Linked DNA regions of Homo sapiens: region 1 is linked to region 2. A link means that fine-mapping ties the variant in region 2 to the expression of a gene that starts in the linked region. Tissue or cell type: adrenal gland. Region 2 holds a variant in brackets; the other region holds the start of a gene. All regions are shown on one strand. Distances are from middle to middle. Region 1 holds the start of KHDRBS2 (KH RNA binding domain containing, signal transduction associated 2). Region 2 overlaps KHDRBS2 (KH RNA binding domain containing, signal transduction associated 2).

Region 1 (8,356 bases), 68 kb after region 2:
TTTGGGAGGATGAGGCAGGTCAATCACAAAATTCGGAGTTTGAGACCAGCCTGGCCAACATGGTGAAATCCAGTCTCTACTAAAAATACAAAAATTAGCCGGGTGTGGTGGCACGCACCTGTAATCCCAGCTACTTGGGAGGCTGAGGCAGGAGAATTGCTTGAACCCAGGAGGCAGAGGTTGCAGTGAGCCAAAATCGCACCACTTCACTCTAACCTGGGCAACAGCGCAAGGCTCTGTCTCAAAAATAAAATAAAATAAATTTTTAAAATACGGCTTATGTTATCACAAGCATCACAAGCAGAAGTTGTTTTTTGTTTGTTTGTTTTTGTTTTTGTTTTTTCATCTTAAAAGAACCCTGCCTGGTAGGTATCACTTTTCCTGTTATATAGATGAAGAAACTGAGTATCAGAGAGGTGGAAAAAAAATGACACATCCTTTATTTCCCAGTAGGTAGAAGTGTCAATAATCACTCCCAAGTGTTTTTCTTGTCAAAGTAGAAATTTTCCACTATATCATAAATTGTCTTAATTGAAGATCAAAGATAACTTGAATTTAATTTTTTGCCCATGTTTGTTTTGTATTTAAGAAACATAAGATTATCCCAAGTCTATTGGGAGAAAAAGGTGATTACGTTAATCAAAAGAAAAGTCACTTTAAAGAGTCACAGGAACACTATTTTTTAACCAGAAGCTGTTTTAGACATGACACTAATAACTTTCCTTAATTAAAAAACTTATCAAGCTTTATGAAAAATATTTAAGAAACACGATCTAACTAAAAAATGGTTCTTATTGATAATCTAAATGTAGTTAACTCACAAGTTTGCATGTGTGGTAAGTATTAATCCCTCTTTTCTTAATATTTTTAAGATCTCATTTATATCTGCAGAAATAAAGGCCAAGTCTAGATGGCAGGTCAAACTTTTTACTAAAGTTTGAAAATAGCGCCTACAGTTTTTTGAAAACCATTCGAACTGCTGGAATATTTGGCAATATTTGACATCGTCATATAATGAGTCAACCAAAATGGTTATGATTATTTCAGTGCTTGCAAAGATTTCAGGCTAGAAAATCTTCCCCAAACCTCTCTTAATTGGACAAAAATTTATAATGCTCCTAGGAGTATGGAATCACCATAACTGAATATATAAATCTGAACAGATCTATGTCTGTCAGCAGACACAGAATATTTCCAGATAATATTTTCATGTATATACATTTTTGGCCTCAAACATTAATAGTAGTTCAATAGACTTAAGAACATAAATCTGTCCCCAGTACCCAAAATAAAGTATATGCCTCAAATTACATTTTAGTGCCATAAATATATTATTAATCATTAAACTAGGAAAGAATGAAAAAAGTTTCAAAAATGTGCAGCCATTGAATTTTTGTTCCGAATATACAAACATCACTTCGTTGTATCATCAGTAGCCTGAGACTTAATTAGAATTGCAAAAAAACATATACATCACTTAGTCCAACTCCTTAATTTGAGAGACAAGGAAACTGGGCCCAGGGAAAGAAAGCTTACCCAGATTCAGTTGAGGTTAAAGTGGAATTCAAATCTAGGTATCTAGATTCACAGTTTAATGCACTTCCCAGAAGCAGAAAAGATATAAATAAACTTATGTAATTTCATCTGGCAACCAAATTCAGACACTGAGTAGAACTTTAAGGATAGTCCTGAGTTTGCTGTTTTATCATATTCAAAAGCACCTACCATAACAAGTGGATAACTAAACAACATTATAATCGCAGGATGAACATTATTTTAATTATTTAAGCATATTATAAACAAACTTCAAACTACATTATTCAAGAACTCTTCTGAGTAACAATCAACTGAAATCATTCTCATTGAAAACACACAGCACAAACAAGTGAAATAAAACAAACTACAATGGACCCCCCAAAAACCCCAAATAAACATCCAACTAGTACTTTCAACCCCACAGCCTTCAATTCTACATGAAGCACTGTCAATTGAGCACTGATTTGCCTGTATCACCAATCAAAATGCAAAATAAATCATTGTGAAATCTCATTGGTTTATACTACTGCCTTTATATATATTAGCTTCCGGAAAATCATTCTGAAGAACTGAATCATCTGTATCATTTTTACTACTCACTCAGGCTTGACACTGTCTGCACAGTACTGACTGAAATGTACTTTGCACCTTCTTTCCAAATGAATATCTATGTCAGGTTTATTTACAGCCACTCCCTTCAATCAGTGCATTCTCAGGTATGAGAAATAAAATAATCTCAACCATACTCTTCTATAGAGATCTGAAACTAAGCGTGGACATCTTGGCAACTGGCCTTTGGAAAGATAATGAAAGATCTATACCATAAAATATACATTAAGATTATTGAGATTCCAAGAACAATCATCTTACACTCTTTAATTAGCACATGTAAAGAGCCCCAGGTACAGAGAGCTAATATAAAACCTATGCACCCTTTTGCATAACTCTTTAGGTACTCCAAGATTATTATAACCTCCTCCATTCTCTTTTCCTCATTCTGATTTCTCTGAAATTTGGGTAACCTCTTTGTTTCTTACTTAGATGTTTTTCTCTATTTAGGAGCTTTTCCTTCTAATTCTTTACAAAAGCAGGGCATGCTTCCCCCTGCTGGGAAAAAATCAAATTACAAGGTACATCAGAACATGTTCCTAAGTATTATATCAAGAAATCAAGTTCCTAGGAAAGATAAAATGTTAAGGAACCAAGTGCATTCTCTGACTGTTTTACCAGCCACAGAAATACTTATGCACTCTGTTAAGAGTTTCTTGTATGCATTTATTTAGCTTGGCCGTCTTCAAGTACAATAACTCATATTAATGACTGATGAATTAATCTTTGAGCCACTTGTCTCAAATAGAACTCCAATTAGCGGGTCAGAGAGAATGATCAATTTGTAACTTTTTTTTCACTTTAAAGACATATTATAAGCTACATAAAGAAAATTCTGGAAAATATATTGAAGACTATTCAAAATATATTAAAGATACTGAAGACTGGTAAGACTTGCCTTTTAAATCATTTCAAACAATCTTAAACATCTATTAACACATTATTTTGCTATTATTTTTATGTAGTTGTCTTTTTTGGGAAAGTAAAAAAAGTTCGTTTTTATTGACTTTACTTTTCCACTTTAATTTATATTTTTTTTCATTCAGTAACCAAGAAAGTAGTAGGCATAATTGTATTTCACCTTCCCACTTATCTATAAAACTAGCTTTTTCCCTGAAAACAGTTTAGTTATTTCACATGTTCCATGTTTTGAATATAAATCTTTTCCTAATTGTTTAGTATTTAAACATAGAAAAATACCTTACACTTCATTGTTAATATAAATAACAATTCATAAATTAAAAAATATAGCTAATGCCTATTTAAATCATATATTGAGGAGCAGAATTTATTCTTCCTTGGTACAACTAAGTCTCAAAAAAATCTTTTAATACTGAGGAGCTTGGGTAGAGGAAGTTATCCGTTTTAGTTTTTTGCTGTATGTAAGTCCATAACAAACTTAGCTACAAAACTGCATTGTAACCAATTTGATGATGAAGCAATTCATTATTAATGAAGCATTCATCTAAAAAAAATCTGCAGATGTTTTAAAAAGGCATGGGTAAGTAACTACAGATACCATAGGTGTCTTTAGTATTTAGATGGCATTATTATAACATAAATGGAGTAATTCGGTTAATAAAGTTCATGTGTCTTTTTTCAAAAAAAAACCTTTCAAAGCAATGCAAAAAACAAGACATATGTGTTCCTCTAGGAATGAAATCCCCTTTAACATTACAGGTACACAAAAGAAAATGCACACTTGGTAAAACAGTTGATCAATTATAGAGTGTTCCCAGGGACCAATATCTCACAGAGTACCCAATCATCACACTTCAAATAAATGTATAAGCACTTTAGCCTTTACTTACCACATTAACATACATATAAGAACATGCATAGTTTAATGCATAGGTTAATTCTAACACTTTCCATAGGATAGACTTTGATTAAAGGGTATCAAAAATCACTTCCTAAATGCAGCAAAAAATAAAAATAAAAATACCGATCTGTAGCTACGAAGCTCTTAGAACACTACATTGATCACCATTTACTTCCAAACTGCTTTCCCTTCCCTCTGCGAAGTGAAAATGTCCCTGTAGACCGCGTTACATACACTTTATGGTTTCTCTATCAATGATCCTAACAGGTCACATCGCCACTGCCATTAGATCTCCGTAGCTTTGGTCTTCTCCAAATTAAGACGTGGAGAAGGAGCACTGCTGTCCGCCCCAAGAACGGGGTCTGTCCGCCCGAGCTCTAAGGCGAGCATCTTCAGGGGGACAGTTTCTGCGAAGGCGGGGAGAGGAGTCCCTCCCCAACTTCACTCCCCTAATCAAGCCGCGGGTGAGATAGGCAGCCGGCGGTTTGTGCCCATCTGTGGGGGCAAGTCCTACCTTCTGCCAAAAGGCGCGACGCATGCACAAAAGATGGATCCAGGCTATCTTTCTCTGCCATCAGCTCAGGCAAATATTTCTCCTCTTCCATAGCGCGGACTTCGGATTGTCCCCGGGCGAAGCGCGAGGTTCCGCTCGCTCGGACGCAGGCAGGGTCTTGGGGCAGCGCCTGGCTCCCGCGCTGCTCCTCCTCCGCGCGGCGAGGGATCTCTGTGCGTCCTCACTGGCCCATGCACCCAGCACCTGCGACTCCCGCCGTCGGGCTGCGTGGCCCCGCGCCCACACCTGCCCGTCCCTTCCGTCGTCCCTCGCTCGCGCAGAGCCCCGGCTCACACCAGCGGCCTTAACTGGAGAGGCGGGAACAGGACGCGGCCCACCTCCGCCAACCACTCATTGGTGGTGGTGCCAGGAGAGGCGGGGCGCTGGCAGAAGGCCGCGGGCTCTCATTGGGCGGTAGCGCAAGTCGGGTGGCCTGACTGGCAGGAGGCAGCTGCAGAGGGGAAGGGAGCTCGGAAGATGCAAACGCTTTCTTCTTGCGCCCAAGCCTTCCCTGGCTATTAGGCATGCCCAGTTTTGTGGAGTTCTCTGTGTCTTCAGCTAAGGCGCAGAGGAGAGAGAGCGCGGGAAAAGCGCAGGTTAAAGAGAGAGGTCTGAGTACAAGTGGACAGGGGAGATGGAGATGAGAAGTGAGCCACCCGAGAGGGTGGAAAAGCGCCAGGGAAAGTCTCAGGAAGGTAGATGGGACTTCACCTGCGTCCCTAAGGCACAGGTGTCTCCTTTCCCTCACACAGCTCAGGCGCACTCCAGTTGTGCAGGAATCAGCAGCGCACTGGGTCTGGAAATACAATGAAGACTGCATGTGATCGGCAGCTGGTATTTCCGATGACCTACATCTCAGGGACGCAGTAGGATGTTCATTGATAAACAAATAAAGCGGCTCGAAGAAATATTGTGCAGAGACATGATTGAGGTGTACAATCATTAGGATATTGAATTAGTTCTGGTAACCTATCCGTGCCTCCTTTCCCCAGACCCTATCTGTGGAAGGGAGGTTGGGAGGGGCTGAATTTAAAAACCAAAAACAATATGATTCATTAGTCACAGTTTGTGAAAGAATTGGGAAGACATGTAGAAGAAAGAAGAGACTAGAAAATAGGTAACCACGTTTGCTCTAATTTTCCCCTTTCTCCTAGTTTTAGATGTGCCAGTCTCTTTCACCAGGTACTGTTGCTGAGCTACTTTGTATTATCCCACCTCTATTTAAAGGAAAGTTAAACCCTCATGATATCACCAAGCGTGGAGGCAAAGCCCATCCTTCTTTTACCAATGCGGCTATAAAATGTAACTTGCATGCCTCAATCGCTAGGAAACAATCTTTCCCCAAGTCTTGGGTTCTCGTTTCATAAGTAGTCATTTCCTGATTCTTCTCTCCCCCATTATTTTTGGTGTGGAAGAATGAGGGCCAACTTTGCTACAAATAAAATGTGCTGAAATTTTTCCAACTTATCTTACTGTATTTAAATATTTTCCTTTTAATTTTTAGATAAATTCGGGAGATTAACTTTTATTTGTATAATGTTTAAATAACGTAACGTGCCTCACATTGATTATTTCAATACGTCCTCACAGAAGCACTCTGAAAAATGCCAGCCAAGTATTACTTTCTCTGTTTGTATAAATATGGAAACTGAGGCAAAACAGAGAAATCGTCTCATGTCTAGTTAATGCTGAAGTTGAGATTAAAATTCAATTCTATATTAGCACCATTTATATCCAGAATATACTGCTTCAACCTACCTTTCTGTGTGTTATATATTTAATTTATTTGTGCATGTGTGCATTCAACAAATGTTTATTGGATACTGAAAAGAGTCTAGGGACAGTACTTAAAATTGGAGAAACATTGGTGAATAAGATACATACACATTCATTCCTTGTCATCACAAAGATGTTTTCTAATGGGAGAAGATAAATAAAACCAAGTATACAAGAGGAATGGTAATTGTTGACTGCAATAAAGGTCAAGAATGAACCAAGGAGTTAAGAAAGAGAATACAAGGGAAGACATTAGTTTCTTTATTTTTGACTAGGGTAAACATACAATCTCGATAAGCAGCTGATATTTACGGTGAAAACTCATGGAAAAGAATGAACCAAGTGAGTACAATGTGCAAAGAAAGACATTCCAAGCAGGGGAACTTGCCCCTGAAAAAGCCCTGTGGTGGAAAGAACTGTGCTGTCTTTTGGAATTGACTGAGGTCAATGTGACTACTGTAATATGGGAAAGAATGGAATCAATAAGGGAGGGGGGATTGATGTGTACAAACACTGAAGATTTGATGAATGAAAATTATTTGGATTTTATTCTAAGTGTAATAGGGGACCATAAAGTATTGGTATCTTTCTGGATGTGCTTCTTAATCTCTTTCTGATTCTTATGTTACTTTCAAAGGAGCTATTATTTAGAATTGAGTATATATACAGAAAGTTCTTGCTATTTTATCTGTGTGCAGAATGTTTAGTAGTTGAAGGGTCATGCATCCTGCACCTGGTCTGCAACAGGGATATAAAGGGAAAATATGCTTCAAACTTAAAAGAGGTGGCTACGATTTGCTATGGTAGTAAAGGGTGAATACGATGCCAACCACAGGCAAAAAACTGTAAATGTTTTCGAATAAATGTAAATTAGAACAAAATATTTTACAATTACAATAACATTTTGCTTTGCAGCATATCAAGACATTAAAAGCATATGGTGAGGATGGAGACGTGCAGAAACCCAGTTTCATGAATGAAGAAGGTGTAGTAACTCTTATAATGTCCAGCAACAACAACTACTTTATTATTCACAGCCATCTTTTCCATGATTACAGGATTAATAAGAAGATACCACAGCGAGCTGTCCAAGTGCTGACTTTATTATACAATGTCTTCAAGTCATTATAAATACAGTCAAGTTAATATTTTCTAGTTATTATCAAAACTAAAGATTTATTATTTGTAGTTCTTCAGGTAATCCCTCATCAAATGCCTAAAATGTATTCTAACAAAGCAATATATTTATGCAACTTAAAAAATCAAAAGAAAATAAACTCTAACATAATCTTTAGAAAAGTTTGTGTACTTACTACATGATGGACATTGTAAAATAAAGATATATAAGTATATTGACCCTTAAAAATCAATATGCTTCAGAATTATCTCACAAAATGTTGCCTATTTTTAAACAGAATATGACTAAATAAAGGCAAACACCAAGGGCCCTACATATACACTCATCCAGCATCAGATCCACGTGTTTTCAATAGATGGCTCTGTGTTACTGCATGTTCTCCATTTATTTCACATGCAAATATTTTACAGGTACAACATTATCCTTTAATATTCTCAGAGAAACCTTGAAAATGCAAACATTTTATAAACATAAATGTAAACAGAAAAACTTTAAAAAATGATTGTTGAATATAGAATATTTTGTGTCTACCCTTGAATAAATTATAACTGCTGTTTAACCCACCTCTTCTAATGATATGAATAACCTAAATCACCACTGAATTGATTTGCCTAACTTAAGTAAAGATTTATCTTATTTTAAACATGACTTCTAGCCCCAAAACATTTTTAATGGAGTTCTAGTAACTTTAACATTATTTTTAAAATGGGATATTATAGAAAATTTTGCCCCAACCACATTTGGTTTTGAAGGATGAATAAGTCATGCACCATAGAATATGTTCTGTGGTTAAAGCACAAACTGTATATTCAATATTTTCACACACCCTTGTAAGAAAGGTCAGGCTAAAGGGCATTTAATCAGACTAATCCTTGCAAACTAATAAAAAAATACCCAGCCTGCATTATCAAGTAGAGCACAG
Region 2 (8,356 bases):
TAGCTATCAATATAATGCTGGGGCATTGATAATGTGATTATAAGATAAGTACCTTCTCAGTTTCAATATTTTTTTGCCTTTCATTGAGATGATTATTTGAGAGAGAAAACTCAAGAGTAGAAGCAAGTTTGGGGGAGAAGATGCCAAAGTGTTTTTTATGTCCCGAGATTGAGGTTGCAGTTGCATAGCGCAGAATATGAAAAAAAAAATTCTGAGAATAGGGGTCTGTGGATCCCCACCTCTTTTAGGGATCCAGCAGAGGGGGGATCATGAAGGTTAATGAAAAGATAAAAGTCTTAAAAATCAAACGAAAATCGGAAAAGTGAAAGTAAGAAAGGCTTTCAGCAGGGATAGAATGTTGGAAGGGCTAACCTTGATAGAAAATACTTAGCAGAATCATGGGGAAAGAAGAAACCAAACTGTAGTCATATTTCAGAGATGAATCAAGTCTGGGGCATGGTATCCTTATTAAAATAAAGAATGGGAGGCTGAGACGGTCGGATCACAAGGTCAGGAGATCAAGACCATCCTGGCTAACACGGTGCAACCCCGTCTCTACTAAAAATGCAAAAAATTAGCCAGGCATGGTGGTGGACACCCGTAGTCCCAGCTATTCCGGAGGCTGAGGCAGGAGGATGGCGTGAACCCAGGAGGCGGAGCTTGCAGTGAGCCGAGATCACGCCACTGCACTCCAGCCTGGGTGACAGAGCGAGACTCCATCTCAAAAAAAAAAAAAAAAAAAAAAAAAAAAAAGAATGAAGTATCTTAGCCAACTTCTAATACATGTGTGTTTGTTTTCTCAAATAGATTTTCTAGCAAGAGAAATACATGATGATAAAATATTTAGCCATTTAAGTATAAAATTTATTTAGAAAATAGCTAACAAACTAATATTTTATCCATGGCAAATTGAACAGCTTTATCTTCTATCTCTTGCAGGTCTCTCTGTATGTTCAAATCTTTCTGATGCTTCACTTGTTTACTCTTGAGATTTGATTTATATTTCTGAAAATCCATCCATGGCAAAATTTCTTTGTGCAAAGTATATTGATGTTGTGACTGCTGATATACCCTTTACTTTTTCAACCACAGTATAGACATTTTATATCATTCTTCCATATACAGGAAAGGATTATATATCAAATTAGAACAGCCATTAATGATTATAACAATGCAGGTAAGTATGAAATTAATGTATTATTAGTTTTTTAAATACTAAGAATCATGACCCTAGAAAACTGTAATAATAGGAAATTTCAGAGGATAAAATTTCCTAGAAATAGTAACTTACAAAAATTATACACCCATTTAAAAGTTGACTGTTTTTAATGGCTAAGACCTAACCAGACCAATCCTCCCACAGATAACAAAAGTAAGCCCAAGACATAATCAAGAAAAACAGCCACTTGAGGGCACTGAAAAAGAAACAGAAGCAGGACTGGAAGTGGACAAACAATATTTTTACCCACATCTCTCTGACCAGAACTCATTCACATGACTGCAATTTATCTGAAAGGGAGACCTAGGAAGGTAGATTTTTCTCTGTGCTCAAAAGAGGAAACTGGATGAGCATCATCCAACAAGTCTCTGTCACATACAGATTTTACCCAGAGCAGCGAAACTAGCTGGATGCTAAGTACGTCTCACATATGCTTTTCTTCTTTCTGTAACATATCACAATAATCAATTTTCCTTTATTTCTTCCAAAGCTGAAGAGCTGAAAGCTTTTGTCTCTTCTATCAACAATTCCAACTGTACGTTCTTCTTCATTTGACATTCACATTTTTATTCATTCAGTTACTTAAGGACAGAAGTATACATACAAATCAAGACATAAGATAAAAAAATTTAAAATCCATCCAAAATCTCAACAGTTTTGTTGAATTTTCCATTGTTTCCTTAGAAAGCTAACAGAGGTCTGTCTAACAGGTAGCATACCTTTTCTCTATGGGAAGTCAGAACCAGTTGAAAAATAACAGTGAAGCAGCAGAAAGACAAAAATATCAGATTATTACTGTAAAAGAAACTAAAAAAATATAACTTATATACACAAGAGAGTTTTCCAATTCTGAGCTCTAGAATTAGACATATGTCCCCCCTCACCTACCCACATGCAGTGCAATATATCCTCACTTGCATGAAGAGTGTTGCCCATTACAATCCAGAGCATGAAGGTGCAGAGCAAAATACACCTTTCCTATGGGAGAGTAGCTTACTGTAGACGGAAGGAGATAGAGACTGGTTATGATTACTCAGCTCCTTCCTCCAACTCAACCATATAAGCCACTCCTCCCTGCAGATAGAAGGAACTGAGAAACTGGAGAGCACTCTGGAGCTTTAAGTCATTGGAGGATCTTTCACATGAAAAGAAATAGGAGACATTGTGAAGATGCCAGCCCCAACCACAATAAAAAAATACGCCTTTTAAAAATAATACATATAATATTTAAATTAGAAAATAATTACTTCCTTAGGTTATTTAAATTATTCTGTTTATGTATCTTCCCATAATCTTCTCAACCCACCGGAATAAACAATGTTTTTATAATTTTGGTTTCATAACTCCAGAATACCAGTGATCAGCCCGATTATGAAATACAATCTTTAATAAATCATAGATTTTCAGAATCATAGGTTTTATAATCATGAGGACTTATGTTGAAGAAGCCAAAGTTGCAAACAGGTATTACCTTCATTAAATTGGGATCTTACTTAAATGAGAGATAATCAATGTAAATATTAATACAGTACAGGAAAAGATTAATATGATACTCTATGATTGTTTATATGTCATAAACTATATTTCCGTGAAGTTGGTATCACATTCAGAAATAACACCTATAAAAAGAAATATTTCTCATAATATATAGCTTTTAATTTTAAAGATTTTGTACTTTATAAAGATGTTCATGCATGTTGGATTGATCTTAACCCAACTAGATTCAACATTTTAATCCTTACTTAGCCAAAAGGTACATGAGTTGTGCCTGATTTGTAAAAATTTTGATTTGACTCCTTTTAGATTTTACATTTAAATTCCCAATAAACCCAAGAAAACTCGCTTTCAAGGATTAGAATCACTGTATGAAAAAATTTACATTGCCACAGAAGATACTCAATGACAATTTAGAATCATTCAACAAAAGTTTGAATAATATGATCAAGAATAGGTTGATTGACACTTTTGCATAAAACTAATAGTACAATGATTTCTTTCGTGGACCTCTAAAAGCTCTCAGCAGAGCATATCTAATATGTTTGTTTTAAACATGGAATCTAAAAGTTCTTATGCAACACACAGAAATGTTTACTATGCCATAATACCAATAGCTACCTAAAGGTTAGGGATCTAAGAGGGCAAAATAAGACATCATCAGTATTTAATATATATTCATTCTAAATGTCTCTGTGAAAGTGAAGTTCCACAGGAGTCTTTATAATGATGCACTGAGATGGTGGTGGTCTTGGGAAGTAAAGAAAAGAAAGCCACATGACTAAGGTTTGATCCACCTGCTTCAAATAATCTAAACATATTTCTTTCTCCTCTTTTTTTTTTTTTTGTTTTATTAAGCACTTAACGTTTTTCTCCCAATGAGAGAAGTACCAGTTTCAAGTAGACCAGGATAGACTTTAGATGACCAAAAGCCTAGATCACTTCGGTGAGATACAGGAAAACTGAAGTTTGCACCTCGTAAAATTAGACCATATTTACTCATTTTTAGGCTTCTGGGAAGCCAAATACTATTATTAAAATCAGGGACTCAACACATTTAGCAGGGGTTATAGGGTTTGGTATCAGAAAGATGTGAACTAACAGACTATAGAAATTTCCTGGCCTGAGAGTCTTTATATCTTCTCAGAAAGAGATGATCTGATTAAAAAAAAAAAAAAAAAGGTGCCAAAGAACAAACCCTGACACTATGTTATTTTCATCTACAACATCTGTGTTACATTATTATTTATTTCAAACACTAAATCAATTCAGAGAATAATGCATGTGCTTAATGCAGAAGGAGCAATGTCTCTTCGCCGTTTTCAATAAGAGCTGAGTCTTTCTCATGAACCTAAAATCATACTGTCACTAATCCAGATCTTTAACAATCAATCAATCCTATATTCAAATGACCAGAAAAAAAAGCTAAATTCATATATAGAAGCCTTTCACAACTGGGTTGTGACTTTTTTATTTAAGGAGTATATATTCAACGTCATGTAATTGATTGTTCTCAGTCAAGATTTCTGACTTAGAAGTAAACATATATAATTTATTTAGCACTTACTGTGGACTTACTAAATTCCAAATGCTGTCTTAGACTCAATCTTTATAATTGAAGAGTTGCTTTTCAAACACATAGTTGGTAATACAATATGGTAAATGTGATTTATAAATTAGCAAAATACTGAAGAAGCAGCAGAGATTGAAAAATAATTAGGTAGAGTACTTGGAGATAGGCTTACAAAAATGACATTTAGGCTACATTTTCTTGAAAAATGATCAACTGATGTCTTGATTAGAACAGTCTGAGTCTAATAAAAGTGTCAAATTGTCTTACATATGTAACAATAAAACATAAGTTGTTTTTTATAATTATGAGGACTTATGTTGAAGAAGCCAAAGATAAAACTACAGTATCATAGAATCCATAAAGCATCAAAATATAGAATCCTGAAAGTTTATATAAGTGAAGTTTTTAAATTAATGATTGATTGACACTAGGGCAGAGATTCTGTTTTCAAAACTGTCCAACTGGATAATTTGAACCAATCCTTCAAATTGATTTAATACTTAAAAATCTTATTAAAAGCAACAAAAGACTAATGAAGAGGAGGAATCACTCGGCCAAGGTCCCAGAGAAGAGTGACTCTGGAGAGATAAGTCTGGCATTTGGGTTTGCTTTCACCCTTGGGGCATCTTGCCAACACGGGAAGAGACAACAAAGGGAC[T/C]GCACAGCATGTTCATTACCTCTCATGCTACAGGGATGAAATGTGGAGTCAAGAGTAGTCAAATGGAAAAAGAGTAAGGATATACCAAAAGAAAGCAGCCCTCAATGGATGGTAGCCAGGCTGCTAGTCATCTGAGTAGACGAGAACAATCCCAAGCCTTAAAACACGATTAAAGTGATTTTTAAAATCTCCAATGTTCTGGGTATCTAAAAGAGCAAAAGAATATCCCCTTTAGAATCAGATATTATCATCTTAGACATATAATTATTTCCTCAAGCATTTTTAATAACAATCTGCAGCACACAATGGCAGGTATACAAGCAAAGATAACATGACATGAACAGAACCAACACAAACAAAAGAAAATGGGCAAAGGCCCAGAAAGAGTACAGAAGTGAAAATTATCAGAAAAAGACAGATATCAAATATGTATAAAGATAAAATTTGAAACTAAAAACTTTAGCCAGGAATTGGTAACATTTAAAGAGGTATGTTATAAATTTAAAATAAAATCAAACAGAATTTCCAGAAAATAAATATTTAATAAATAAAAGTAAAAACTAGCAATCTCAACATGGGGTATCTATCTGAAGGAAGTCATTTTATCAAAATAAGTATCTTCACTCACATGTTTATCACAACACTGTTCACAGTAGCAAAGACAGAATCAACTTAAGTATCCATCAACAGATAACTGGATAAAGAAAATGAAGTATATATCCACAATGAAATACTGTTAAGCCATAAGAAAATAAAATCATGTCTTTTGCAGTAACATAAATGGAATTGGATGCCATTATCTTAAGTGAAACAACTCAAAACAGAAAGTTAAACACTGTGTATAATTGGGAGCCAAATAATATGTATGTGGACATACAGTGTTGATTTACAGACACTAGAGATTCAGAAGCACAGGGGGGAAGAAGTGGGCAGGGTAATGAGAAATTACTTAATAGGTTCAATATGTATTATTTGGTTGATGAACACACTAACAGCCAAGACTTCACCACTATGCAGTATAAGGATGTAACAAAAGTGCACTTGTATTCCTTAAATTTATACAAATAAAAAACTAAATAGGCAGATTTAACTGCAGATGAAACACAGCTAACTTGAGAATTAATGAACTTGGAGATTTTGTAGAAGGAAGTGTAAAGACCAAAAAAGAGAAAAATATATATGATTATAAGAGATACAGAAAGCAGAGGGAAAGGAACTAACATAAATTGAATCAGAGTGCCAGAAGAACAGAACAGAGAAAATAAATGGAAAAAACCATAAATAAATAATAGCTTAGAGTTTCCAAAACTGATTAAAGACATCAATCCACAAATTCAATATTACAATCAATTCTAAAAATGACAAACAAAAACAAATTCTCATGTGTGATTATATCAACATGAAATAGCGAAAAATAAATACAAAGATAAATAGTAAAATAAAATTGAAAAACCCATTACCAACCTAAAAGATGCATATTAGAAGAAAATTCACTATAGAAAACATTTTTGAAATAATTTGGGATTTTAAAATATGGAATCGATATTAGATAATATAGGTTTATTTTTCTTAAGAGTAATAATGCACTATAGTTACATAAGAGAATGTCCTTATTCTTAGGAGACACACACTGAAGTATCTAGGGCTGAAGTTGCACATCTTTAATTTATTTTCAAGTTTTATATATATATTTTTATTTACTATATGATATATAGTTACTATATATGATAGTATATATAATTGTATATATATAACTTGAAATTATGTGCATAGTTTTATATATATAACTGTATATACAATCATTTTATATAGATCTATACTTGAAATTATATATATATATTAATAGTATATATATAACTGTATATACTATCTGAATATATAGTACATATGTATATATTCTGTATGTTTGAAATTTTTAAAAATAAAAAAGACAAAGAACATACTATAAGTAGGGAAAAAAGAAATTTCTAGGGAGGAGCATGAGATGGACTGACATAATTTCTCAGTAACAGCAATGTAAGCCAGAAGCAATTGAATGATGTTCTCAAATATTCCAAAAAAAAGTACAATCTAGAATTCTATACAAAATGAAAATCTTTCAAAAATGAAGGTGAACTAAAGACCAATTCAGTCAAACCAGAGAATTTGCCACCAACAAACTTGTACAATTTAAATAGTAACATATTTCTTCTTCAGCAATAAATGATCTCAGATGAGAGTGCATAGATGAAAGGACAAAGCACAGCAATGAAATAGTAGCTACATGAGGAAACCTAAATAACAATTTTCTTTAGTAAAACAGTAACAATATTTTGGTGGAAATTATACATTGTACACATATACACAAATATACATAAGTGTATGTATGTATGCAAGTATGTATAGCAAATGCACACACAAGTACATAGTTAAAATATACAGTAAAATTGGCATATAATCTTAAGAGGGTAAATAACAGTAAATGGAAATAGAGTGTTCTAAGGTACTTATATTGATCAGGAGGAAGGTAGAATTAACAATTAACATTAGACTATTATCATTCAACATTAGAAATTACATATTGTAATTTCTAGGGCAATGAATGAAAGAATACCATAAGAACATAGAGATTTATAACACATAAAAATAAAATATTGAAATAATCAACAGAAGGGAATCCAAGAAAAAATATGGTAACATCAAACAAGTAAGACAAATAAAAACAGAATATGATAGATTTAAAAGCAAGTATGTCAGTGACTATTTCAATGGAAATGAAATTAAAGCTCCAATTTAAAGAAAAAATTTGTTAGATTACAAATAAATGCTTAATAATTTACTGTTTATAAAGGACATAAATTAATCATATGACCCAGAAATCTCTATTCTGAGTATATACCCCAAAGAAATTAAATCACCACCTTGTAAAGATATCTGCATTTCCATGTTCATTGCACATTATTCACAATTCCCAAGATATGAAAGCAATACGTGTCCACTGACACATAAAGGAACTGTGATGCATATATACAATGAAATATTACCCAGCCATACCAAAAAAAAAAAGATTTTGCCATTTGCCACAACATGAATGAAACTGGAGGACATTATGCTATGTGACATAAACCAGACATAAAAATAAAAGTTGTATTATATCACTTATATAAGGAATCTAAAAATTAAAAGGTTGAATATACAGAGATAGAGAATGAAACAGTGGTTACTAGGATTAAGGTAGAGGGTATGGGGAGATATATGTCAAAGGATATAAAGCAGCAGATAGATAGGCTAAACAAACCTAGAAATATAATGTACCACATTAGGACTATAGTTACTAATACTGTATTCAAGATTTTTGCTAATTGAGTAGATATTAGCTGCTCTTGCCACGAAGGAGAAAAAATGGTTAACTATGTGAGATGCTGGATATGTT

What was found. PIP is the estimated chance that this variant, and not a neighbour inherited with it, causes the effect.
Region 1: it holds the start of KHDRBS2, and the variant in region 2 is fine-mapped to the expression of KHDRBS2 in adrenal gland (GTEx, PIP 0.96).

What each region holds. Positions count from the first base shown.
Region 1 is chr6:62,281,377-62,289,732 of GRCh38, forward strand. KHDRBS2 (KH RNA binding domain containing, signal transduction associated 2) reads right to left here and starts at 4,849. Exons shown (of 9, transcript NM_152688.4): 1 at 4,482-4,849. The coding sequence starts at 4,572. RefSeq lists a silencer at 4,709-4,798.
Region 2 is chr6:62,213,151-62,221,506 of GRCh38, forward strand. The region is part of intron 1 of KHDRBS2 (KH RNA binding domain containing, signal transduction associated 2); the gene reads right to left. Among named protein-coding and RNA genes, the nearest start is that of KHDRBS2, 69 kb to the right of the region's middle. The variant T/C (reference allele first, on the strand shown) is at 4,945.